Linked DNA regions of Homo sapiens. The protein of the gene in region 4 interacts with the protein of the main gene of each other region in a biochemical or structural test. Each region holds a gene or a part of one and is shown on either strand. Other genes may lie near its edges.

The links.
Region 1: the proteins of TJP3 (region 4) and LRP4 interact in a test that uses a peptide from one of them, tested with the Homo sapiens proteins (one large-scale study listed by IntAct).
Region 2: the proteins of TJP3 (region 4) and SLCO1A2 interact in a test that uses a peptide from one of them, tested with the Homo sapiens proteins (one large-scale study listed by IntAct).
Region 3: the proteins of TJP3 (region 4) and KCNV1 interact in a test that uses a peptide from one of them, tested with the Homo sapiens proteins (one large-scale study listed by IntAct).
Region 5: the proteins of TJP3 (region 4) and SLC2A7 interact in a test that uses a peptide from one of them, tested with the Homo sapiens proteins (one large-scale study listed by IntAct).
Region 6: the proteins of TJP3 (region 4) and UQCRC2 interact in a test that uses a peptide from one of them, tested with the Homo sapiens proteins (one large-scale study listed by IntAct).
Region 7: the proteins of TJP3 (region 4) and TMEM151B interact in a test that uses a peptide from one of them, tested with the Homo sapiens proteins (one large-scale study listed by IntAct).

The regions. Positions count from the first base shown.
Region 1 is NC_000011.10:46,894,551-46,898,050, reverse strand, and holds part of LRP4 (low-density lipoprotein receptor-related protein 4 precursor), read left to right. Parts: intron 1-1,056; coding exon 1,057-1,182; intron 1,183-1,715; coding exon 1,716-1,841; intron 1,842-2,032; coding exon 2,033-2,167; intron 2,168-2,759; coding exon 2,760-2,885; intron 2,886-3,231; coding exon 3,232-3,462; intron 3,463-3,500. UniProt on the Homo sapiens protein: Mediates SOST-dependent inhibition of bone formation. Functions as a specific facilitator of SOST-mediated inhibition of Wnt signaling.
Region 2 is NC_000012.12:21,328,418-21,331,917, reverse strand, and holds part of SLCO1A2 (solute carrier organic anion transporter family member 1A2), read left to right. Parts: intron 1-3,500. UniProt on the Homo sapiens protein: Na(+)-independent transporter that mediates the cellular uptake of a broad range of organic anions such as the endogenous bile salts cholate and deoxycholate, either in their unconjugated or conjugated forms (taurocholate and glycocholate), at the plasmam membrane.
Region 3 is NC_000008.11:109,963,136-109,965,771, reverse strand, and holds the end of KCNV1 (potassium voltage-gated channel subfamily V member 1), read left to right. Parts: 3' UTR 1-2,136; downstream 2,137-2,636. UniProt on the Homo sapiens protein: Potassium channel subunit that does not form functional channels by itself. Modulates KCNB1 and KCNB2 channel activity by shifting the threshold for inactivation to more negative values and by slowing the rate of inactivation.
Region 4 is NC_000019.10:3,732,384-3,735,883, reverse strand, and holds part of TJP3 (tight junction protein ZO-3), read right to left. Parts: intron 2,132-3,500; coding exon 1,972-2,131; intron 1,558-1,971; coding exon 1,449-1,557; intron 319-1,448; coding exon 245-318; intron 16-244; coding exon 1-15. UniProt on the Homo sapiens protein: TJP1, TJP2, and TJP3 are closely related scaffolding proteins that link tight junction (TJ) transmembrane proteins such as claudins, junctional adhesion molecules, and occludin to the actin cytoskeleton.
Region 5 is NC_000001.11:9,023,624-9,027,775, forward strand, and holds the start of SLC2A7 (solute carrier family 2, facilitated glucose transporter member 7), read right to left. Parts: upstream 2,801-4,152; 5' UTR 2,723-2,800; coding exon 2,672-2,722; intron 1,452-2,671; coding exon 1,353-1,451; intron 1-1,352. UniProt on the Homo sapiens protein: Probable sugar transporter. Even if its physiological substrate is subject to discussion, it is able to transport glucose and fructose. Does not transport galactose, 2-deoxy-d-glucose and xylose.
Region 6 is NC_000016.10:21,959,861-21,963,360, forward strand, and holds part of UQCRC2 (cytochrome b-c1 complex subunit 2, mitochondrial precursor), read left to right. Parts: intron 1-2,599; coding exon 2,600-2,656; intron 2,657-2,900; coding exon 2,901-3,025; intron 3,026-3,500. UniProt on the Homo sapiens protein: Component of the ubiquinol-cytochrome c oxidoreductase, a multisubunit transmembrane complex that is part of the mitochondrial electron transport chain which drives oxidative phosphorylation.
Region 7 is NC_000006.12:44,276,697-44,279,944, reverse strand, and holds the end of TMEM151B (transmembrane protein 151B), read right to left. Parts: 3' UTR 501-3,248; downstream 1-500.

The DNA.
Region 1 (3,500 bases), on a different chromosome or scaffold from region 4:
CCCCCGCCCGGCCAGCCGCCCCGTCCGGGAGGGAGGTTGGGGGGTCAGCCCCCCGCCCGGCCAGCCGCCCCGTCCGGGAGGTGAGGGGCGCCTCTGCCCGGCCGCCCCTACTGGGAAGTGAGGAGCCCCTCTGCCAGGCCACCACCCCGTCTGGGAGGTGTACCCAACAGCTCATTGAGAACGGGCCATGATGACAATGGCGGTTTTGTGGAATAGAAAGGAGGGAAAGGTGGGGAAAAGATTGAGAAATCGGATGGTTGCCGTGTCTGTGTAGAAAGAAGTATACATGGGAGACTTTTCATTTTGTTCTGTACTAAGAAAAATTCTTCTGCCTTGGGATCCTGTTGATCTGTGACCTTACCCCCAACCCTGTGCTCTCTGAAACATGTGCTGTGTCCACTCAGGGTTAAATGGATTAAGGGCGGTGCAAGATGTGCTTTGTTAAACAGATGCTTGAAGGCCGCATGCTCGTTAAGAGTCATCACCACTCCCTAATCTCAAGTACCCAGGGACACAAACACTGCGGAAGGCCGCAGGGTCCTCTGCCTAGGAAAACCAGAGACCTTTGTTCACTTGTTTATCTGCTGACCTTCCCTCCACTATTGTCCTATGACCCTGCCAAATCCCCCTCTGCGAGAAACACCCAAGAATGATAATAAAAAAATTAAAAAATAAAAAAAAATAAAAATAAAAAAATAAAAAGAAAAAAAAAAAAAGACAAACAGGCCACTACCCATAAATCTTGAAGACACTGGGTAAGACCACCACCATGTACAGTTGTGTAGGTTGTGCACTGTGCAGAGGCAATATGTCCAAAGGGAAGCCAGTCACATAATAGATTTATATACTCATCATGGCAGTTTTCCAGCAGATGGCAGTAAAGTGTCTTGAGGAAAGGATACTTTTTTCTGATTCACACAAAGACACTATATAGACCAGCTGTGATCCCGGTGTCAAGAGTGGCATGGGTACTGATATAAGCTGCAGATTTGGGTGGCAGGGAGAATTTCAGGCTGAAATGGGGCCCACCTTTCATTAAGCCTTTGCTTTGCCCAGCCACCTCCATGTGTACGGCAGAACAGTTCCGCTGTCACTCAGGCCGCTGTGTCCGCCTGTCCTGGCGCTGTGATGGGGAGGACGACTGTGCAGACAACAGCGATGAAGAGAACTGTGAGAATACAGGTGGTGTCTCCCGGGGTGCCCCAGAACCCTTAGCCTATAGTTGGGGTGGAAGGGTGGAAAAGAGGGTGCTTTGGTATCTTTCCAGTTGGGTTGAGGTTTTACCAGTGTAAAATCCAGGTGCATCATTGACCTGCGGCCTTATGGCCTGGAGCACAGTATCAGAGCTGCGAGTTTCAATTGCCACTCCTATTCTAACTCACACACAGCCAGTGCCTTTAGCTCTGGTCTAGTGAGGAAGGACTACCCTCCATCTGGCAGCCCCCATGTGTGCTCCCCTGGCCACACCCAGTATTGAGCATGTGGTTGCACTTTTTCATTCTGTTCCATATTCCTCACCATCCCACTGTGGAGTCCTGGGGAGAAAGCAAATGCAGACATTCAGCCAGCCCTGTCTGAGCTGCTTCCTGCCCAGGACCCTCACCCTCCCACCTTGAGTCTCATCTGTCTCCAGCTTACCCTAGAAAATGACAGGCTCCCATCTCTTTGTTGGCCCAAGCCCTGCCTTGCTATGACCTGACCCTCCATCTCTCTAGGAAGCCCCCAATGTGCCTTGGACCAGTTCCTGTGTTGGAATGGGCGCTGCATTGGGCAGAGGAAGCTGTGCAACGGGGTCAACGACTGTGGTGACAACAGCGACGAAAGCCCACAGCAGAATTGCCGTGAGTGTCCCCAGTGGGCGGACCTGGCCCATGGTTTGTGGCCGAACCCCACCCATAGGGTTCAAAGGGAATCCTCCCTCAGGACTCTTGCAGCTTTGGGAGCTGTTCTTTGTGGTCCAGGTGGAATGCCAAGTTGGCTCTCTGGGGGAGGATTCTGGGCTCAACTCCCAACTCTGGCTTGGCTGGCACAGGGCCCCGGACGGGTGAGGAGAACTGCAATGTTAACAACGGTGGCTGTGCCCAGAAGTGCCAGATGGTGCGGGGGGCAGTGCAGTGTACCTGCCACACAGGCTACCGGCTCACAGAGGATGGGCACACGTGCCAAGGTGAGCTGGGGCCTGGTTTGCAGCAGAGTCGGGGTTCTGAGCAGGGGCAGCAGACAGGCAGCTGTGTTTCCTATGGGTCAGGCATTTGAACGGTGTGACCTCATTTCGTCCTCACAATAACCCTAGGAGGTGGGGATCATCCTTCCCATTTCACAGATGGGGAGACTGAAGCACAGAGAGGATAAGTAGCTTACCAAAGGCCACACAGCTGGCGAGTAGCAGAGTTGGGATTCCAGCCCAGGTCTGCATGACCTTAAAGCCCTTAACCATTTCTTCTTTTTTATTTTTTATTTTTATTTTTTTGAGATGGAGCCTCGCTCTGTCGCCCAGGCTGGAGTGCAGTGGTGCGATCTCGGCTCACTGCAGCCTCCGCCTCCTGGGTTCAAGCCATTCTCCTGCCTCAGCCTCTTGAGTAGCTGGGACTACAGGTGTGCGCCACCACGCCCGGCCGCCCTTAACCATTTCTTAGACAGCCTTCCCACTAGGCCTGGAAAGTAGATGGGGATGTGGGCAGAAAAGCAGCTCGGCAGCCTGGGAGCGGGAGTGGGAGGACGACAGAAGGGAGATCTCTTGACCTGCCTGGTGTTCCCAGATGTGAATGAATGTGCCGAGGAGGGGTATTGCAGCCAGGGCTGCACCAACAGCGAAGGGGCTTTCCAATGCTGGTGTGAAACAGGCTATGAACTACGGCCCGACCGGCGCAGCTGCAAGGCTCTGGGTAAGGGCTGTTGGCACTTGGCTGGGTGGGCAGAGGGCCGAGCATGGAGGAAGGCCAGGTACTCTGGTGCTCAGGGATTTGCAGAGAGGTAGAGAGATTTCTGTCACAGTAAAATGCAGCAACAGTTGCATTCTGAGCCCCAAGAAAAATGCTGCTGGGGTGGAGTGGGGTGGGGAGGGGTGGAGGAATATAGTTTAAAGGTTGCCACTCTTCTGGTACTGATGCTGACAGCTTGGGGCATGTCCTTGTGAGCAAGTGGCTCCATCGGTCAGCTGAAGACCTGCTGATGGGTACCAGGGGCGGCTCTGAAACCCAGTGGGTATCCCATGTTTATACTGTTTCCCAGGGCCAGAGCCTGTGCTGCTGTTCGCCAATCGCATCGACATCCGGCAGGTGCTGCCACACCGCTCTGAGTACACACTGCTGCTTAACAACCTGGAGAATGCCATTGCCCTTGATTTCCACCACCGCCGCGAGCTTGTCTTCTGGTCAGATGTCACCCTGGACCGGATCCTCCGTGCCAACCTCAACGGCAGCAACGTGGAGGAGGTTGTGTCTACTGGGCTGGAGAGCCCAGGTAGGGAACAAGGCCCCATGGAGAGGGGCAGAGCCATG
Region 2 (3,500 bases), on a different chromosome or scaffold from region 4:
CCTGGGAGCCCCCACCCACTCCAGAGAATCCCCAATCCCCTAAATTTGGTTAAGATCTAAAATTTATTTTTCTCTACAACTCCTATTTTTTAGTTTTACTTGTGTCCAACAAAGAAGGCAAGTTTTCCTGCTTCCATGACAATGGAGCGTGGGCAACTCCTTTCTGGAGTTTCAGCTAATTTCCAACAGGGAAGGCAAGTTTGAGCTTTTTTTTTCCTGCCTGTAAGATGGTAAACAGCAGTCTTGAGCCAGGGTCTCATTCCTAGATAAGTAGCTGAGTTGGGTTTTTTTTTTTATCTCAGCGATTCTCCTTAATGACTAAAAATTAGAATTGACAGCCGGCTAGTCTTAATTTCTCCTTAGCATTAGAGTGCTCAGTAATCATATTGTTGGGGTTTTTTGTTGTTCTGGTGTTTCTCCCATCAGATTTGACCAACTGTACCCAACTTGGCCAAATTCAAATGAGAATTCCAAATTATGAGCAGCCAGACCTCTGAAGCTGCTAAAATTCCTCATAACTGAAAAAAAGAAAACAAACAAATTATGCGCTTGGTTTCTGTTGCAGCTTCCTGTCTTAAAAACACAATTGTTCTTTCATTTTCTTTTCTTCCACACTATTTCTCCTTCCCCCTTCACTGTCTGGTACCAAAAAAAATCTAGAGAAGCCATCAAATGACTTGAACCCCTTAAAACACTCAGAACAAAGGCATCACTCACCCTTTCTTTCTCTGTGGAGTTTCAAGAGTCATGGGCAGATTCTTCTTAAGGTCTAAAGTGTTCTTATTCAAAGGTAAATTATTTTTGTCTAATTCAGAGGTTATTTAAGGATTATATATAAAATGAGGTAAAAAGGACCAGGAAATAAGAGATGTAAAGAAAGTTATAAAGAGGTATTTTTGGTAAGAAAGCTTAAAAGAAAAGTAATTTTATATGAGAAAGAATCTTGCATGATGAATTTTTGTCCTAAGATAAAATGACTCGTTCAAGAAAGAGAAATATTTATGTCAAACCAGAAAGTCCAAGCATGTTGTAAATGGTCTGTGTAAGTTGTAATAAGGTTAGTAAAACAGGAATTTGTTAAAATGTTATGTGATTCAGTTGGCTACAATTAAAGGAAATTATAATAGTTTTTCTAAAAATTGAACTTTGATATTAAAAGTACACTCATGCAACACTAAAGAACTGGTTAGAACAAGATTTATTAAAAATGTTGAGTTACTCTTAATGCAAGGACTTTAAAATTTTTGAATTCTATAATCTTTTTCTTTTTAAAATTATTTAGATTGATATCTCAGAACCTGTGCCCTACTGCTTCAGTTTTTTTCTCTTTTGAGAAGGCCTGGAATGGTAACTCTCTCCTTCAACTTTGTTTGGCTCCTGTAACTTTTTACTTTTATTTTATTTTTTTTGAGGCAGGGCCTCACTCTGTCACCCAGGCTGGAGTGCAGTGGCACAATCTCAGTTCACTGCACCCTCAACCTCCCAGGCTCAAGAAATCCTCCCCTCAGCCTTCTGAGTAGCTGGAACTACAAGTGTGCACCACAAAGCCAAGCTTTTTTATTTATTTATTTATTTATTTTGTATTATTTATAGAGATGGAGTGTCACATGTTGCCCAGGCTGGTCTCGAACACCTAGACTAAAATGATCTGTCTGCCTTAGTCTCCCAAAGTGCTAGGATTACAGGCATGAGCCATGGTGTCTGGCCTTTTTAAGTTAATAGTTGAAACTAAGAAACAGAATTTTTGAAAATAGGCAAATGAAAAATATTTTGGATCTGCTTTTGTCTGTATGTCTGTTATAGCTATATGTTTATATGTGTCATGTAGAAGTAATATTTCACTACCAAATTATATTAAAGACCTCTAATCACTTGGCTAAAAGAAAAATAAGTGCTTTTCAGACTGAAGGAAGCTACCAAAGATGCCTTTTAATTCATATGACCTTAGTAGTTTTGGGTAAGACTAATCTGGTAAATTTAATCTCAAAATTACCTCCAGTAGTTTAACATCTTAAAGTCATGTTATGTTAAATTAAATAACTCCTATTTTTTTCAATGGGAATCTGGGTTACTAAGAGTTAAAATAGTAGGAGAGTAAATAGTGTTTTTGGTAAAATTTATAAAAATACAATGATGTAGCTTTTGCTAAAGAATTTTTTTTTCTAAGAGTTATTTTAAGTAAAGATAAAAATATTATATAGATAAAACTAAATGGATAAAGAGAGAAATTAAAAGATGAGTGAGGAGAAACCTTGACTCCAGGGTGGCCATGTGGTTACCTATGGTAGGGAGATGCAGCTGAGCTACATTCAATTACAAAAGATAAAATTCATTAGAATTTAGAGATGGATTATGCTCCCGAGGAGTTAGCTCTCTAAATGCATAAGGAGATGCAAACTAATAAAAAAAAAAAAAGCAAAAATATTCAATCCCTTGGTTATTGTTATCTGTAATTGCTAAATGAATGTACAAGAATGCTGGGTTGATCCTTAAGGCTGGATCAGGCCCAGAGGTGGGTCTGTCCCAGCTCAAGCCACTAGACTCCAAGCTACCCACAGAAAGAAAAATTAAACCAGAGCAACAAAAGTTACCTCTGAGAGCTGTGGTTACCAAGAAGATAGTCAATATGTGGGAAGGGCAAAACCAAGTAACTATTAAAACCAGAGGGTATAATGCAAAGTAATTGTTCCATTTTGTAGATCAATATAATCAGCTTCTTGAGAAACCTTAACTACTTTAAGGAAAGAATCCTTTATTTTGAAGGCTACAAAATGAAAGAGCTTGTTTGGGTTGATGCAGGATTCACAAATCACTATTAAATTGCTGATGAGTATATGTGATCCAAATGTATACGAGGTTATTCATAAGAGAACAACCTGCCTAACTGACTGGATAATTGCTACTGTAAGGTCTGTTTACTCTGGAAATGGGACTTCCCAACCATCCCTATAAAATGCCAAGTGGAGCACCCCAGATAATGTAGTTGATATGCTTCATATGCAAGCCATGTGAAACTGTCTTTATAACTGGGATATTCTCCCATTGAATATGACTAGTATCCAGTTCAGTGCCCTGTAACCTCTCCCCTCCCCTTTGCTCACTGTCCTGGAGTGGCACTGGCCTCTGAAGTAATTCTTTTTTGGTCTTGGGACTAGTTCAGGGGAAACTGGGTGGGGGAAATCCCTCCTGCCCTAAGTGCAGTTGGACTGTACAGAATACTCCAAAGGCCAATGGTAGTTCAGCACAGAAAGAGGGAAGGCCTCCAAGTCAGAAAGAGCTCCAGAGACCTCATGGTATTGTAGGGCAGGGTGGTGGGCCAAGGTTAGGACACTGCATAAAACAGGCAATCCCACCACCTCTACCTGCTCACGCCAGGAGAATCCATAACTGCCTAGAGGCCTGAGACCCCTACAAGTAGTAAGGTGAATAGGCATCTATCCAGCCTAGCAGTAGGATTGATGTCTGTCCAGCCTGGAAGAGGGGCACTAGGTGACTCCCTC
Region 3 (2,636 bases), on a different chromosome or scaffold from region 4:
AGAAGTTCAATATGCCTTAAGTAAAATATCAGCTTATTCTCAGAGGTGGAATGGTGCTTTTAAGAAAAGGCTGTGGTGACACCTTATAGTCATTATTAGATTAAAAATATATTATCTTTAGAGTAAATAGTAGTTGGAAATAAAAAAAATTAAAAACTATGTGTATACATATGTATATATGTTTTTATCATGGAGGATCCTAAACATCTTCTCTACAAATGTGCTGTTAGCTATATAAATGTTGTCAAGATGTAGGTCTTCAGAAAGAAGTTTTAAAATATCATTGCTTACTCAATTTTGCTGTTAAATAAAATATCATTTTATTTATTCAATGAATGTATATATAAGCAAACCAAATTTCATTTAGGTAAAAAAATCAAGGCAGGAACTCTGCCAATTTTATAACCCATTATTTTAAAACAGTAAACACTTTTTAAACATCTAAGAATTATTGTTATAAAACAATATTTAATTTTTTAAAATATAAAATAATTGAATTATTGTCTTTCTCTAAGCTATTTAGAGAACACTACTTTCTTTGTTTTGTTTTGGTTTGGTTTTTTGAGACGGAGTGTCCGTCTGTCGCCCAGGCTGGAGTGCCAGTGGCGCGATCTCGGCTCACTGCAAGCTCCACCTCTTGGGTTCACACCATTCTCCTGCGTCAACCTCGCGAGTAGCTGGGACTAGAGGCGCCCGCCACCACGCCTGGCTAATTTTTTGTATTTTTAGCAGAGACGGGGTTTCACCGTGTTAGCCACTTTCTTTGTTAATTTAACTGTTATTTTAAGTTCAGGGATACATGTGCGGGTTTGTTATACAGGTAATCTTGTGTCATGAGAGTTTTTTTGCACGGATTATTTCATCACCCAGGTATTAAACCTAGCACCAGTTATTTTTCCTGATTCTCTCCCTCCTCCTACCCAGCACCCTCTGATAGGCCCCAATGTGTGTTGTTTCCCTCTATGTGTTCATGTGCTCTCATCATTTAGCTCCCACTTATAAGTGAGAACATGTGGTATTTGGTTTTCTCTTCCTGCATTAGTTTGCTAAGGATAATAGCCTCCAGCTCCATCCATGTCCCTGCAAATGACATGATCTCATTCTTTCATATGGCTGGATAGTACTTCATGGTGTATACATACATTTTCTTTATCCAGTCTACAGTTGATGGGCATTTAGGTTTATTCCATGTCTTTGCTACTGTGAATAATGCTGCATTGAACATACGTGTGCATGTATCTTTATAATAAAACAATTTATATTTCTTGGGTATATACCCATTAATGGGATTGCTGGATCCAGTGGTATTTCTGTTTTTAGGTCTTTGAGGAATTGCCACACTCTCACATGGCTGAACTAATTTACACTCCCAGTATCAGTGTATATGCGTTCCAATTGCTCCATAACTTCGCCAGCATCTGCTTTTTTTTTTTTGCTTTTTAATAATAGCCATTCTGACTAGTGTGAGATGGTATCTCATTATGGTTTTGATTTGCGTTTCTCTAATGATCAGTGATATTGAGGCTTTTTTTCATATCATTGTTGGCTGCATGTATGTTTTCTTTTGAAAAGTGTCTGTTCATATCCTTTGCCCACTTTTTAATGGGATTTTTTTTTCTTGTAAATTTGTTTAAGTTTCTTATAGATGCTGGAATATTAGACTTTTGTAGATGTATAGTTTGCAAATATTTTCCCCCAATCTGTAGGTTGTCTGTTCACTCTGTTGATAGGTTCCTTTGCTCTGACAAAGCTCTAGAGTTTAATTAGATCCCATTTGCCAATTTTTGCTTTCGTTGCAACCACCTTTTGTGTCTTCATCATGAAATCTTTGCCTGTTAGAAAACACTACTTTCAGACATTTAAATGCATATAGGCAATGCTTAAGTACCTAAAAAAGCAATTTTAAGAAATTACTGAGGTATCTCTATTAAGAGTGACATATTCATATTTTATTTTATGTATATATTATTTCTATAACATACAAGAAATTGTTGCATTTATCATTTTAATGCAAAGTAGTATCAAGTATAATGGATTAGATGCAAAAATAACTGAGGTAGGAATCTCAGTTCTGTGTTTTAATGTGGAATTCTTATGCTTATTAAAATATTTTGATTAGCTGTTGCAGAAAATATATATGCTGACCCAATTTATCTAAGCAAAACATTGTCATTGGATAAGCTTAATACTTTGAGAAATATTTTTATTGATACATTATGTTAACAAGAAAAGTCTCTTCTTTTGAAATATTAGCCATTAATAACTGTCTTATGAATCCTTCAGTTCAGATCCAACAAGATATTGGATAGCAGGCAAATGATGTGTTCTGATGATCTCCTTCATGATTTTTCTTTGCAAAGCATCACCACCCCAGAACTCTCTCCAAGCCATACTAATATAAGGAAGACAAATGTCACACAGGGAGAGCTTTACTCATCAACGGCAGTTGCCTACCTGGTACGTTTTTAGGGACGACAGGGAAACCTGGATACTCACCATCCTTATGTTCTCACTGTGCTTATATTACATTATATTATATTATATTATATTATATTATATTATATTATATTATAATCACTCCCTTGCTTGCCTTTTCAACTCTAGTGCCCCTCTCTTCCTTCCTGGTATTAAATTGG
Region 4 (3,500 bases):
TTTCCCTGGGCAACTCTGAAAGGGAAAAGCCAGTCTCTTTCCCAAGCACACTGGCTCAGTCCAGCCTCCAAACCTTTGCTTTATGTCCTCATCCTGGAAGGACTGTCACCCACCTCGAGTCCTTCTCAGGAAACCATGTCTCACCACTTAGGCTCAGGCCAACCTCCCCCAGCTCTGCCTGGCACAGCCTTGCTGTCAGGGATCAGAAATGTCAGGGACAGGGGTGCTCAGAGTCACCACCCACCTGACCGTTGCTCATCTGGTTCCGAGATGGTTCTGGAATCTACTGAACTTTCCCGCCGAAGCCGGGGACTCTCCCTGGTGGGGAACAGATTGGGAGTGAGGCAGGGATGGATTTCAAGGGGCCATTTTAAAAAGAATTTTAGGCCGGGCACGGTGGTTCATGCCTGTAATCCTAGCATTTTGGGAGGTCGAGGTGGGCAGATCACCTGAGGTCAGGATTTCAAGACCAGCCTGGCCAACGAGGTTAAACCCCGTCTCTCCAAAAATACAAAAATTAGCCGGGCATGATGGTGGGCGCCTGTAATCCCAGCTACTCAGGAGGCTAAGGCAGGAGAATTGCTTGAACCCGGGAGGCAGAGGTTGCAGTGAGCCAAGATCATGCCACTGCACTCCAGCCTGGGCGACAGAGTGAGACCTTGTCTCCAAAAAAATAAATAAATAAATAAACAAAATAAAAATAATTTTAATTTATCTGGGCTGGGCGTGGTGGCTCACGCCTGTAATACCAGCACTTTGGGAGGCTGAGGCAGGCCAAATGCTTGAGCCCAGGAGTTCAAGACCAGCCTGGGCAACATAGCTGGGCAATACAGACCCCATCTCTACCAAAAATATGAAAATTAGCCAGTCTCACATGACTCAGTCTCAAAACAAATAAATAAATAGAGGAAAAAGAAATTTTTTTTTTTAAGACAGAGTTTTGCTCTGGTTGCCTAGGCTGCAGTGTAATGACACGATCTCGGCTCACTGCAACCTCCATTTCCTGGGTTCAAGTGATTCTCCTGCCTCAGCCTCCCAAGTAGCTGAGCTTACAGGCACCCGGCACCACGCCGGGCTAATTTTGGTATCTTAGTAGAGACAGGGTTTCACCACGTTGGCCAGGCTGTTCTCGAACTCCTAACCTCAGATGATCCACCCTCCTCGGCCTCCCAAAGTGCTGAGATTACAGGCGTGAGCCACCGCACCTGGCCTAAGGCAGAGTTTGATACTAAGAAGTGGGGTGCTGCTGTAACCAACACCTACAAATGCGGACACGGCTTTGGAACTGGGTAATGGGTAGAGGCTGGAGGTATTTTGAGGCACATGCTAGAAATACAGGACTGCGTCCTCAAGGTTACCCCCAGTTGGAAAGCTACGCCCGCGTTCCCCTCTCCCTCCCACCTCCCTCTCCCTCCCTATCACCATTCTGGCCGATGGGTGATACTTACACGGGAGAGTCGGTCTGGCTGGCCTCGGGGCTCCGCTGAGCATGCCGGGGTGGTGGTGGGATGTGGGATGGTGGTGCCTGCGATAGCTCCGAGGCGAGGTCCGAGATGTCTGCAGGGGGAGAGGACATCTCATCAGCCATGGTCACGCCTTCTGGACTGGACCCATTTTACAGAGGGGTATATCAACACCCCTCTAAACAAAGGGCCCTAGACCAAAGTCAGAAGCTCAGTTAGAAGATTCGGCTCTGGAGCTGGGCACGGTGGCTCACGCCTATAATCCCAGCTACTCAGGAGGCCAAGGCACGAGAATCGCTCGAACCCAGGAGGCAGAGAATCGCTTGAACCCAGTGAGCCGAGATCGCCCCCCTGAACTCTTGACTTGCTGTGTGGCCTTCAGCAAGTTCCTGTCACTCTCTGAGCCTCTAGGGACCAGGCTCATTGATTCCTTGGCCCTGCCTGGGGCTTCCCACCTTCCCTGCCATCCATTCAACCCCCTCCCAGGTCCTAACCTCTAGGTCCTCACCCTCCAATGGCGAGCTGTCGCTGTCACTGACAGCAGGCGGAATGTTCACCAGGAACTGCCCACGATCTCTCAGCACCAGCAGGCTTAGCTTCCCTTCTGACTTCTCAATCAGTCGCCGGGTGTCGTTCAGTGACAGGTTCTGGCTAGACACCCCGTTGATCTGAAAGGGACCAGGAATGAAAGAGCGGAAGTGAGTTAATGAGAGATGGGAGACAGTAGAAACAGCCTGGTGTGGGGGAACTTGAAACAGACAATTCCCCCAGAGGTTGCTAAAAACAGCCACTCCCTAAGGAAAGTGTTGAATTGGATTCCTGCTGTGAGTGGAGACCACACCAAGAACTGAGCACCGAATTCTAGAAACAGAAAATGTTCTAAGAGGGGTGGGAGACACTGGGGAAAATGAGAAACAGGTTGACTCTCCTTTCTTACCAAAAGTGGAAATGTCTCAGGGGATACTAGGAACAGATGTGAGGGTGACATTATAAACAACTCTAACTGGAGAAGAGGGAGTATCAGATACTTAAAAGATACTAGAAACACACAATCTTCTGGGAGATAACTAGAAACAGATATCTAGAGTGGGGCGCGGTGGCTCACGCCTGTAATGCCAGCACTTTGGGAGGCAGAGGCAGACAGATCAGTTGAGGTCAGGAGTTCAAGACCAGCCTGGCCATCATGGTGAAACCCTGTCTCTACTAAAAATACAAAAATTAGCAGGGCGTGGTGGTGGGCGCCTGTGGTCCCAGCTACTCAGGAGACTGAGACAGGAGAATCACTTGAACCCGGGAGGTGGAGGTTGCAGTGAGCCAAGATCCCGCCACTGCACTCCAGCCTGGGTGACAGAGCGACACTCCATATCAAAAAGAAAGAAAAGAAAAGAAAAAAGAGAAGAGAAAAGAAAAGAGAAAAGAAAACAGTCATCTAGAGGTAGATTAGAAACACACAATTCCTAGAAAGAACTTAATGTCGGCCGGGTGTGGTGGCTCATGCCTGTAATCCCAGCACTTTGGGAGGCCGAGGCGGATGGATCACCTGAGGTCGGGAGTTCGAGACCAGCCTGACCAAGATGGAGAAACCCCGTCTCTACTAAAAATACAAAAAATTAGCAAGGTGTGGTGGTGCACGCCTGTAATCCCAGCACGTTGGGAGGCCGAGCGGGGGGGATCACCTGAGGTCAGGAGTTCGAGACCAGCCTGGCCAACATGGAGAAACCCGTCTTTTCTAAAAATACAAACATTAGCTGGGTGTGGTGGCGGGCACCTGTAATCCCAGCTACTCGGGAGGCTAAGGCAGGAGAATCACCTGAACCTGGGAGGCGGAGGTTGCAGTGAGCCGAGATTGCGCCACTGCACTCCAGCCTGGGTGACAGAGCGAGACTCTGTCTGAAAAAAAAAAAAAGAAACAGATAACTTTTTGAAGACACTGGAAATAATCAGCTGAAAGCAATTTGGAAATCAAACACTAGGAGTCACTAGAAACAGACTTTCAGGGGAAGAATCCAGAAAGATACCATCCTTTAGGGCAGGGCA
Region 5 (4,152 bases), on a different chromosome or scaffold from region 4:
TTTTGGCTGGGAATGGCTCACACCTGTAATCCTGGCACTTTGGGAGGCCGAGGCGGGAGGATTGCTTGAGGCCAAGGGTTCAAGAGCAACCTGGCCAACATAGGGAGACCCTGTCTCTATTAAAAAAGAAGAGAAAAGAAAAGAAAAAAAAAATTTTACTTTTGAGAGACTTACGACTTACTCTGCCAGAGGCACCATAGGAAATATTCTTCTTCTTTTTTTTTTTTTTTTTTTTTTTTTTTTTTTTTTTGAGATGAAGTCTCACTCTGTCACCCAGGCTGGAGTGCAGTGGCATGATCTTGGCTCACTGCAACCTCTGATTCCCGGGTTCAAGTGATTCTCCTGTCTCAGCCTCCCGAGTAGCTGGAATTACAGATACCCGCCACCATGCCTGGCTAATTTTTGGATTTTTAGTAGAGATGAGGTTTCACCATGTTGGCCAGGCTGGTCTTGAACTCCTGATTTCAGGTGATCAGGTGATCCACCCACCTCAGCCTCCCAAAGTGCTGGGATTGCAGGCGTGAGCCACCGCTCCCAGCCCAGGAAATATTTTTACTAATTGTGTGACTTCAGGCAAGTTACAGAACCTCCAGAAACCTTAATTTCCTCATCAGTTATGGAAACAAGATGTACCTTATAAAGAATGTGTTAGCATTAAATGTGATTAAGTGATGGTACATTGCTTGACTCGGAGGTTCCATCCATGGTAATAATTGTAAGTACACTAATATATGTATATATACGTAATACACAAACAAATGTAATACAGTGTCTGTAGACATGCTAATATATGTATACAAGCGTAAGCATAGACGTATACCAAGGTCAAGCCTGTAGTCAGTTCTCAGTCCTCATCTGAGCTCATCAGCACAGGCTGTCCCTCCCTCCTTGACTCTCATCCTTTACTAGGTTTTGGGGACATTCTGCCCTCAGGGTCTTCCACACCTGCAAGGGCCCCTTCTCTTTTTCCTTTTTTCCCCTTTGCCCCAATCCCTAAATGCCACAGAGTTCAATCTTTGACCCCATTCTCTTTCCAATCAACAAGGGGCCTACCCAAGGTGAGAGCAGTGGGACCTGAGGCCCAAAAAGACTGGGCTGGAAAATGGAACAGGTCCCCCAGCATCCCAATGTGCCCGGAAAGGACGACACTCCAGGGGGAAACACCTCCTGCCACGCCCTGGTCTCCAGGGGTGAGCATCCAGGGTACTAGGGCAAGCTGGCTGCTCCCAAAGGCAAGATGGTGCCTCCTACAGGCAAGATGGCAGCCTCCACGGAGGAAGATGGCGGCTACCTTCCACCCACGACCCCGGTCAGCTGCTGCCCGGCCCACCTTGTGCCCACCTTGTGCCCACCTTGTGCGGCGTGTTGACCACAGAGAGGTTGTAGCCGTACTGGAAGGCTGAGCCAAAGGCCGCGCTCAGTGTCGCCAGCAACAGCGTCGGCTGGAGCCGCTGTAGGAGACAAGTCCAAGGTCGGGACGCTGTGGGCTTGGGCCTCGGGAAGTGGAGTGGCTGGGCCTCCACCTCCCTCCAGCCTGGGCTGGAAGTGGGGGATGGGGGATCCCAGGCCGTGCCCCCGGAAAAGAGGAGGAGGTGGCGCAGGGCTGGGGCTTTTGGGGGCTGAGGTCTCTGCACGCATTCATTCCCTCCTTGAGGATGTATCTGAGCATCTGCTACGTGCCTGGCCCTGTACTAGGCCCTGGAGGCCAAGTGTGAAGTAGGGGATGCTTTAGGAAAAAGGCCCAGCAAAGCACTGCCTTTAAGAAGCTCACTTTCTAGTGAGGGGAGCCCACCCCGTCCAAGAAAGACAAAGATGATAATTCCAAATAGCTAGAATGCTGTGAGGACAATAAAATAGGGTGATGGGTGGGGTAGCAGCCTGTGAGGAATGAGAGACTGTGTTCAGTAGGGTGGGCAGGGCAGGGAAGGCCTCTCTGAGCAGGCGCCCTTTGAGCCGGGACCAGAATGGATGAGAGGGAGCAGCTGTGTAAGCATCGGGGGGAAGAGCATCCCAGACAGAGGGACTCATTGCTTGCCTCTGCCTCTAGAACAGGCCCTTAGGAAAATCCCGGCAGTCGCCTGTGCTCAGGGCCAGGCTTTCCATGGTTGCCACAACACCCAGGGCAGCTTGGAGGGGAACTGGCCTGAGGGCCAAAGTCTGAGGAGCAGGTGGGCAGGGTCTCTGACCATGTCCTAGAGCCAAGGCCCTGGTGCATGCCCCCTCCCCACTGCCCCCTCCACCCCTCACTCCTGTTCCACATGTCCTCACCCCAACCCTCACACTTAGCTGCCTGGCTGCCCACAGCCCGTAGCTCTGCACATCCAGGAACAACCAGACAGAAGGGCAGGATTCGGGCATTCTTCAGAGGCCATCTCCCCTCGATCTTTAAGGGTAGGGGAAGCGGAGGGGAGCAGGGGTGGAAGGGAGAGAGGCATCTCCAGCACCATCCGCTCTCCCAGCATTCGCTCAGCCACCCTGGCCCATGTCTGAGCCATGAGGTTTGAGCATAGCTGCTTCTCCACATGGCTCTCCCAGGCCTGGTTATCCTGAAGAAAAAGGAAGCACGCTACCCGCTCCTTGCTAAAAGCATTCCACGGCCTTCACCTCCCTCCACAGGTCTGCACAGCTGGTGGGAGAGGGACAGTGACAGGTTCCTAGTCTTGGCACTTACCCCCTCCCTGGATGGAATGGGTGGAGGGGTTCCCGCCTCTTTGTTCTCCATCCTTGTTCAGGTGGGAGAACAGGTGTGCTCTACCTCCCAAGTGACACCTGCTCTGCGCCAGCCACCTAAAGACCGGCTGTTTCTCCCCTGGGCCTACCTGGCTTTATGATCCTTTTGCTCTCTGGACCCTGCTGACTTTCCCCAGGAGCAAATTCTCCTTGGAAATGTTGATAAGACACACGTTGCCAGTGCACAAATCATACACAGCACGAATTTCGTCTTTGCACCCACCAAGCCCCAAGCCGAAAGCTCCCTAGTTGCACCAAGGAGAGAGAAAAAACATTGCCTGACATTGGTCCGCAGAAATGAGGACTTTCAGAGACCCAGTGAGGCTGTGACCTGGATCTAGGATGCTTTTTCTGTGTCATTTTTCCATGTATGCCTCTTTTTTTTTTGAGACAGGGTCTTCCTTTGTTGCCCAGGCTGGAGTGCAGTGGCGCAATCTCAGCTCACTGCAACCTCGGCTTCCTGGGCTCAAGCTATTCTCCTGCCTTAGCTTCCCAAGTAGCCGGGATTATAGGCACGTGCCGCCACACCCAGCTTTTTTTTTTTTTTTTTTTTTTTTTTGAGGTGGAGTCTCGCTTTGTCGCCCAGGCTGGAGTGCGGTGGCGCAATCTCAGCTCACTGCAAGCTCTGCCTCCCGGGTTCACGCCATTCTCCTGTCTCAGCCTCCTGAGTAGCTGGGACCACAGGTGCCTGCCACCATGCCTGGCTAATTTTTTTTTTGTATTTTTAGTAGAGACGGGGTTTCACCGTGTTAGCCAGGATGGCCTGGATCTCCTGACTTCATGATCTGCCCGCCTCGGCCTCCCAAAGTGCTGGGATTACAGGCGTGAGCCACCGTACCCAGCCTTTTTTTGTGTGTTTTTAGTAGAGATGAGGTTTCACCATGTTGGCCAGGCTGGTCTAGAACTCCTGACCTCTAGTGATCCGCCTGCCTTGGCCTCCCAAAGTGCTGGGCTTACAGGCATGAGCCACCGCACCTGGCTTTTTTTTTTTTTTTAACTTTTATTTTAGGTTCAGGGTATATGTGAAGGTTTGTTACATAGGTAAACTCGTGCCACGGGGGTTTGTTGTACAGATTATTTCATCACCCAGGTATTAAGCCCACTTCCCAGTGTTTGTTTGCTGCTCCTCTCCCTCCTCCCACCCTCCAGCCGGAAGTAGATCCCAGTGTTTGCTGTTCCTTTCTGTGTGTTCCTAGGTTCTTCATATATGCCTCCTCTTGTGCATTTGGACTAATTGTCCATTTGGGGGAAAGAACAAATTAAACACTTTCAGAAAAACACAGTTATTATTTCTAATTACACTAAATAGTGTTAAATAAGTCAATAAAATATTGGACAAAGGTGCTTATTTCAGAATCATTTCTACTAGCATTTTTTTTTTAAAGTAGAGAATGATTGAATAAATTAGGAGTAACTAATTGA
Region 6 (3,500 bases), on a different chromosome or scaffold from region 4:
GCATTGTTGCAGTAATAATTTGAAAGGAATCTTTTTTCTGAGCAATGGGCTTAAAATATTCAGTCAACCATGCTATAAACAGATGTACTATCATCCAGGCTTTTTTGTTCATTTACAGAGCATAGGCAGAGTAGATTTAGCATAATTCCTAAGGGCTCTAGGATTTTGAGAATGGTAAATGACCTCATCCTAAAGTCACCAGCTGCATTAGTCCCCAACAAGAGTCAGCTTGTCGTTTGAAGCTTTGACGCCAGGCATTGACTTCTCTAGCTACGAATGTCCTGGACGGCATCTTCCAATGTAAGGCTGTTTTGTCAGCATTGAAAATCTGTGGTTTAGTGTAGCCACCTTCATCGATGATCTTATGTAGATCTTCTGGATAACGTGCTGCAGCTTCTATATTAGCATTTGCTGCTTCACTGTGTACTATTATATTAAGAAGATGGCTTCTTTCCTTAAAGCTCATGAACTAACCACGGCTAGCTTCAGACTTTTCTTCTGCATCTCACCTCTCTCAGCCTTCATATAATTGAAGAGAGTTAGGGCATTGCTCTGGATTAAGCTTTGACTTAAGGGAATACAGTTTGATCTAATCCAGACCAGTAAAACTCTGTATTATCAGCAATAAGTCTGTCTTGCTTTCATATCATTTATGTGTTCAGTGGAGTAGCACTATTAGTTTTCTTCAAGAACTGCACTGGTGCAAGAGGCCTAGCTTTTGACCTGTATCCGTTTTTAACATGCCTTCCTGACTTCCTTAGAAGCTTAATCCTTTCTAGCTTCTGATTTAAAGTGAGAGACATGAGACTCTTCCTTTCACTTGTATACTTAGGGGCCATTGTCGGGTTATTCATTAGCTTAATTTCAATATTGTTGTGTCTCAGGAGTAGGAATATCCAAAGAGAGGGAGAAAGACTTGGGGAGCAGCTGGTCAGTGGAACACTCAGGACAGAAACAGCATTTCTTTTTTTTTAATTAATTTATATTAAAGACAGGGTCTTGCTCTGTTTCCCAGGCTGGAGTGGAGTGGTGCAGACATACCTTATTGCAGCCTTGAACTCCTGGGCCCAAGCGATTCTTCTCCCTCCGCTTCCCAAGTAGCTAGGACTATAGGCACATGACTCCATGCCTGGCTAATTTTTTATTTTTTGTACAAATGGAGGTCTCACTATGTTGCCCAGACTGGTCTTGAACTCCTGGCCTCAGGTGATCCTCTCACCTCAGCCCAGCATGCTGGGATTGCAGATGTGAGCCACTGCACCCAGCCCAGATTTTTTATATATTGTGTTGTCAGTGGTAAAGATGATAGAGAATGTCTCATTCTGCTGATAGGAGTATAAATTGATACAACCACTTAGGAAAGAATCAAGGAATATCTGGTAATATTGAAAAACCCCACAGTTTTTAATCACATTCACAAAGGTATTCTTTATAAAGACTGGAAACGATCTAAGTGTCCATCTTTAGGGAAATGGGTAAAGTATGACAGAGTCATGATGAGACCACTATACAGCCATTACGGAATGAACTAGATCCATACGTCAACATAGCACAACTGAAGGGCAAAATAGAGTGTGAACAAGCAAGTTTCAAGATTTCTTTAAGGTATTTTAATTTTTTAAGCAGAAAAATACTATGTAGTGCTTATGATTGTGGTTTCCAGAGTGGGAGAGAGTGAGGGAATTGGTCTTGGAAGGGTACGAAAAGATCTTCAACTTTATTTGCCATTTTAAAAAATTGTGGTCAAATGTATATAACATAAAATTTATATATATATATATATATATATATATATATATATATATATATTTTAGACAGTCTCGCTGTGTCGCCCAGGCTGGAGTGCAGTGGCATGATCTTGGCTCACTGTAACCTCCGCCTCTTGGGTTCAAGCGATTCTCCTGCCTCAGCCTCCGTGGTAGCTGGGATTACAGGCGTGCGCCACCATGCTTGGCTAATTTTTGTATTTTCAGTAGAGACCATGGTTTCACCCTGTTGGCCAGGCTGGTCTCAAACTCCTGACCTCAAGTGATCCGCCCACCTCGGCCTCCCAAAGTGCTGGGATTACAGGTGTGAGCCACTGCGCCCGGCCCAAATTTATCATTTTCTTAAGTGTGCAGTTAAGTGGCATTCAGCAACCATCACCAACATTCAGCTCCGGAACTTTTCTATCTTCTCCCACCTGAAATTCTGTACCTGTTAAACAATGGCTGCTCATTCTCCCCTCCCCTCAGCCTTTGGCAACTGCCATTCTCTTTTCAGTCTCTACAAATTTGACTACTCCAGGTACCTCATAAGTAGAATCATACAATATTTGTCCCTTTGTGACTGGCTTATTATCCTTAGCATAATGTCCTCAGGGTTCATCTGTGTTGTAACATGTGACCAGATTTCACTCCTTTTAAGGTTGAATTATTTGCTGGTTTTTAAAAAAATTTTGAATTTTAGTTGGTTAATATGTGGAGTTTTGTTATATTATTGTTCGCACCTTTTATACTTCAGAAATTTTCTTTCCAAAGGAATTGGTTGATAGAAGATTATAAGGGAAAGCTTACTATCCTGATTCAGATGATTTACTCTAGTTTATTTTCCGATTCAGTGTGACCGCAACAAGGGAAAACATGGCTTATACTGTGGAATGCCTGCGGGGTGATGTGTAAGTACCTGTGTGTGTTTAGGACTTCTGCTTTGAAAGAAATACTAAGCTGCTCACTTCTGGTCTTTGTAATGCGTCATTATGACCTCTGACTTCCATTTTGGATTATTGTTCATAAACTGCTCAAAAACACTGCTTACCACAAGACCTAAAGTTTCACATTGAGAGCATTACAGCTATGTAGAATCTCAAATGTTGGCTTTACATTTTTGACTCATAATTCTTATCTCGATGTCTTCTGTAGTGATATTCTAATGGAGTTCCTGCTCAATGTCACCACAGCACCAGAATTTCGTCGTTGGGAAGTAGCTGACCTTCAGCCTCAGCTAAAGATTGACAAAGCTGTGGCCTTTCAGAATCCGCAGACTCGTAAGTACATTTCCAGATCACATTTGATTCTAAGATACTGGGTTTTTTAGAAGATCAATTTATAGAAGAAAAAAAATTGCTGTCAAAATTTTTATTTTTATTTTTATTTATTTATTGTTTTGAGACAGAGTCTCACTCTGTCACCCAGGCTGGAGTGCAGTGGCACGATCTTGGCTCACTGCAACCTCCAGCTCCCGGGTTCAAGCAATTCTCCTGCCTCAGCCTCCTGAGCAGCTGGAATTATAGGTGTGCACCACCACACCTGGCTAATTTTTTGTATTTTTAGTAGAAACAGGGTTTTGCCATGTTGGTCAGACTGGAGTTCAGTCTTGAATTCCTGGCCTCAAGTGATCCACCCACCTCAGCCTCCCAAAGTGCTGGTGTTACAGGTGTGAGCCACCATGCCTGGCCAAATGTTTTACTCCTTGAATTTGAAAATATCTTTTTCAAAAATTTGTTATTTAGATTTATTATT
Region 7 (3,248 bases), on a different chromosome or scaffold from region 4:
ACACCCACAAATGACCAACTTCTTTCAGGAACAGGGAAGTCAGAGAGGTGTCTGAGGGACTGTGCCTGCCAGATTCTCCCGTTGGGGCTGCCTGCCTCCCTGACTCCCCACCATTTTCTTCTCTACCAAACAGATCCTTGATCTTCAAACACACACACACACACACACACACACACACACACACACACACACACACCCTCTGGCTACAGCAGGGCTATGCCTGGCTCTCTCTGCCACCCTCATCCCTGTAGATGCATTTCCCTGTTGCTTGACTCTGCTTTAAGTGATCCAGTTCTACAGGCCACGCCATCCCCTAGTTCCCCAACTCCCAACCTGGGAAGGGGACAATGAGCTGACACCAGGGGCTCAGACCCAGTGGACTCCTCTGGGGAGGCAACTGTAGATGACAACTTCCAGGGAAGGATGACACAATCCCTGCCACCCACCCCAGAGAGCTTCCCTGGGAGGGAGGGAAAGAAGTGCCACACTGGGACAGGAAGTCAGTGAGTCATCCACGACTTTATTATCCACCAGTTTGATTTGTACAATCTTTGCGCTTAAATCCACGACAAAAAGGCCACAGTGTGATGCACCCAATTGACAGAGACCTGTCTTCTCCCCAGCCAGGCCCAGCCCACCCCACAAGCCCTTGTCCCCAGGACACATGGAGCCTTCCAGGTGCCCTACATGAGTCCCCCATCACTCTGTAGCTGTCCACCCTGGGGCCACACCTACAGGAATCACATCAGCCCCCAGGGCCACAAGAGACCTAGCTGACTGATTCAGGCTGAGCGCCATTGCCCATCCTCCTTGGGCTGATTCATTGGCCCAGAGCCTCCAGAACTGTGTCCCCAAAGGGCAGGTCATGGGCTACAACCCCAGTCCAGGAGTGCCTGCTCTCCAGGGACTCCTTCCGCTAAGCAGGCGCTGAGCAGAGCACCAAAGGGGGCTTGGGAGTGACTGCATGTGTGTGCCTGTCTAGGCAACCTAGAGTCTGTCTGTGCCTGACACCCTCTGACAGTTCCGGAGTGCAAACGTGTAGGTGTGAGGGTGTGTGTGTGTGTGTGTGTGTGTATAGCCACAGCTGCTAGCAGAAGTTCTAATTAGAGAAACAAGAACATTCAGTGTAAAGTTTAATTTTAGAGATTAATTAATTTTCTGGTTTTCATTTTCCCTGGCAATCAGTAAAGCTACCAAGAAAATAGACCAAAGAATTGGTTTCTCTCTAAGTCTGTGCATGTGTGGGAGATGAGGCTGTCTGAGACGACCTAGGCAGAAATGGTCAATACAGGCAAAAATAATAATAGAGGTCCCCCTTCCCCTCTTGTGAGACCAGGCTCTGTCTCAGGAACAGGCCTGAGGGAGGAGGAGCCACGTTCCTCCTTCCTTGGAGCCCTGAGGTGGCCAGGCTGTCCCCACACAAAGCATGACATCCAGGTGCCAGCTGGCTAAGAAATGGAGCCTGAGGCTGCAGCTCACCACCTGTACCTCACAGATGTCCATTCAGAGGAAAGAAGGGTGCTCCAAACGCCAGGCCCCCAAGGAGCACAGACTCAGGGTCCAGGCAGGTTCAGTGCTAGTAGGCAGGTGGGCACTGCTGTCCAGGAAAACCTGGTGGGCAGCTGTTTCCCCTGCCCAAGCCTCCCTCTCTCTAGCCTCTTCTCCCTCCTCACTCAGCCATCTCTACCTGAAAGTAAAGCTAAACCCTTTAGAAGCCATGGGCCATGGTATCCCCACAATTTGGGCCCCTCGCACTCCCCGCTAGGAAGAAGGGAAGGGGAGCCAGAGGCGATGTTGCATAGGTGGAGGCCACACAGTTGGTGGTGCAGGCCTGGCTGGGCTGAAGGAAGATGAGAGGGGCTGAAGGAGGGTAAGGAGGAGTTCTGATGGCTCAGGCGAAGTAAGAAGCATCAGGGGTGAGAGATGTGGGTGGCCCAAGGGTTATCCTCTCTAGCCTGAAATGTGAGCTCAATCCCTGGGTGCTAAATCTGCTGGGGAGACTTTAGCCAGGGGAGTTGGCAGGGCAGGAGGGCTGTTCACAGACATGCACACTGAAGCACATCAGGGTGGAGGTGGTGGGGGGAGCACACGGAGAGAAGGCGGTGTCAGAGCTTTAGGGGAACAGGACGTGGGGCCAGCGCCCTGGGGTGGTGGCAGGATGCCCCTTTGAAGACCCTGCGACACACAGCAGGGCTTCAGCTCATAGGATAGGGAAGGATGGAAGGGTTGGGCAAGATTTAGAGAATGCTTGCCTCTGACCCTGCCATTGGAATTATTTCTCCAGTTGGGGCTTGTGACAACGTCCTCAGTCCCCCAGAGATGTGTTTGAGCGACAAGCACACTCCACTCCTCCGCACAGGTTTAGGGAGGCAAAGGCCGCCCCCACAGACACCCCACCTCTGGAGGTCCTTTTCCTCTACCCTCCACTGCCCTCTCCTCTCTTACTCCCACCTGCTTCCAGAGGTCCCCGTTGCCACCCAGGTCTATGTCATGCTCTCTCCCCTTAGTCACTCGTGCTGGCCAGCTTTAACGAGTGCTGCCCGGGTGGCATCTCACTCTCTAAAAGGGGTATACACTCAGAACCCAGGTGAGGAGGCCCCTGTTGGGAGGCTGAGGAGTTTAGAGAGAGGACTGAGGTACACAGTCCTCCACATTTCACTCCCCTCCCCACTGCACCCTGGCAACAGCTCTGCAGGACTGGGGAGCGGAAGGTGAGTGATGTCTGTGCAGTGAGCACAGTCCCTCTGGACCTGGAGTGGGGGCCCAGTTAGATAAACAACAGTGGAGGGAGCGGCAGAAAGGAAACCCCAATCTTGGGGTCAGCGCCAAGAAGAGGGCAGCAACATTTCCACGGTGTTGGATGGAGGCCTAGGGCTGACACCTGGCCCCAGCCTCAGACCTGCTGAATGCATTAGCTAGTTGGAATCCAGCCTGCTGGTCACCAAACCATTGCCCCCTCCATAGAGAGAGGCCCCAGGGGAGTGAGGCCACGAAGGAAGGAAAGCCCCAAGTTCCCTTCTCCACAGCCTCTAAATCTCCCATCCGCATGCCAGGGCCTCTCCCTTCAGACAAGGCCCAACGCGGGGCCCACGGCACGGTTGTCATCTAACAGAAGATCTGTTGAAGGGCTGGACAGGAGGGAGGTGTCCCTTTAGGAACTCAGGGTTGGGGCTGGAAGAATGACTCTGCCAGGGGGATCTCGGGGAGCAGCCGACCCCCTCCCACCCATCGGTCTCTTTATGTACAGG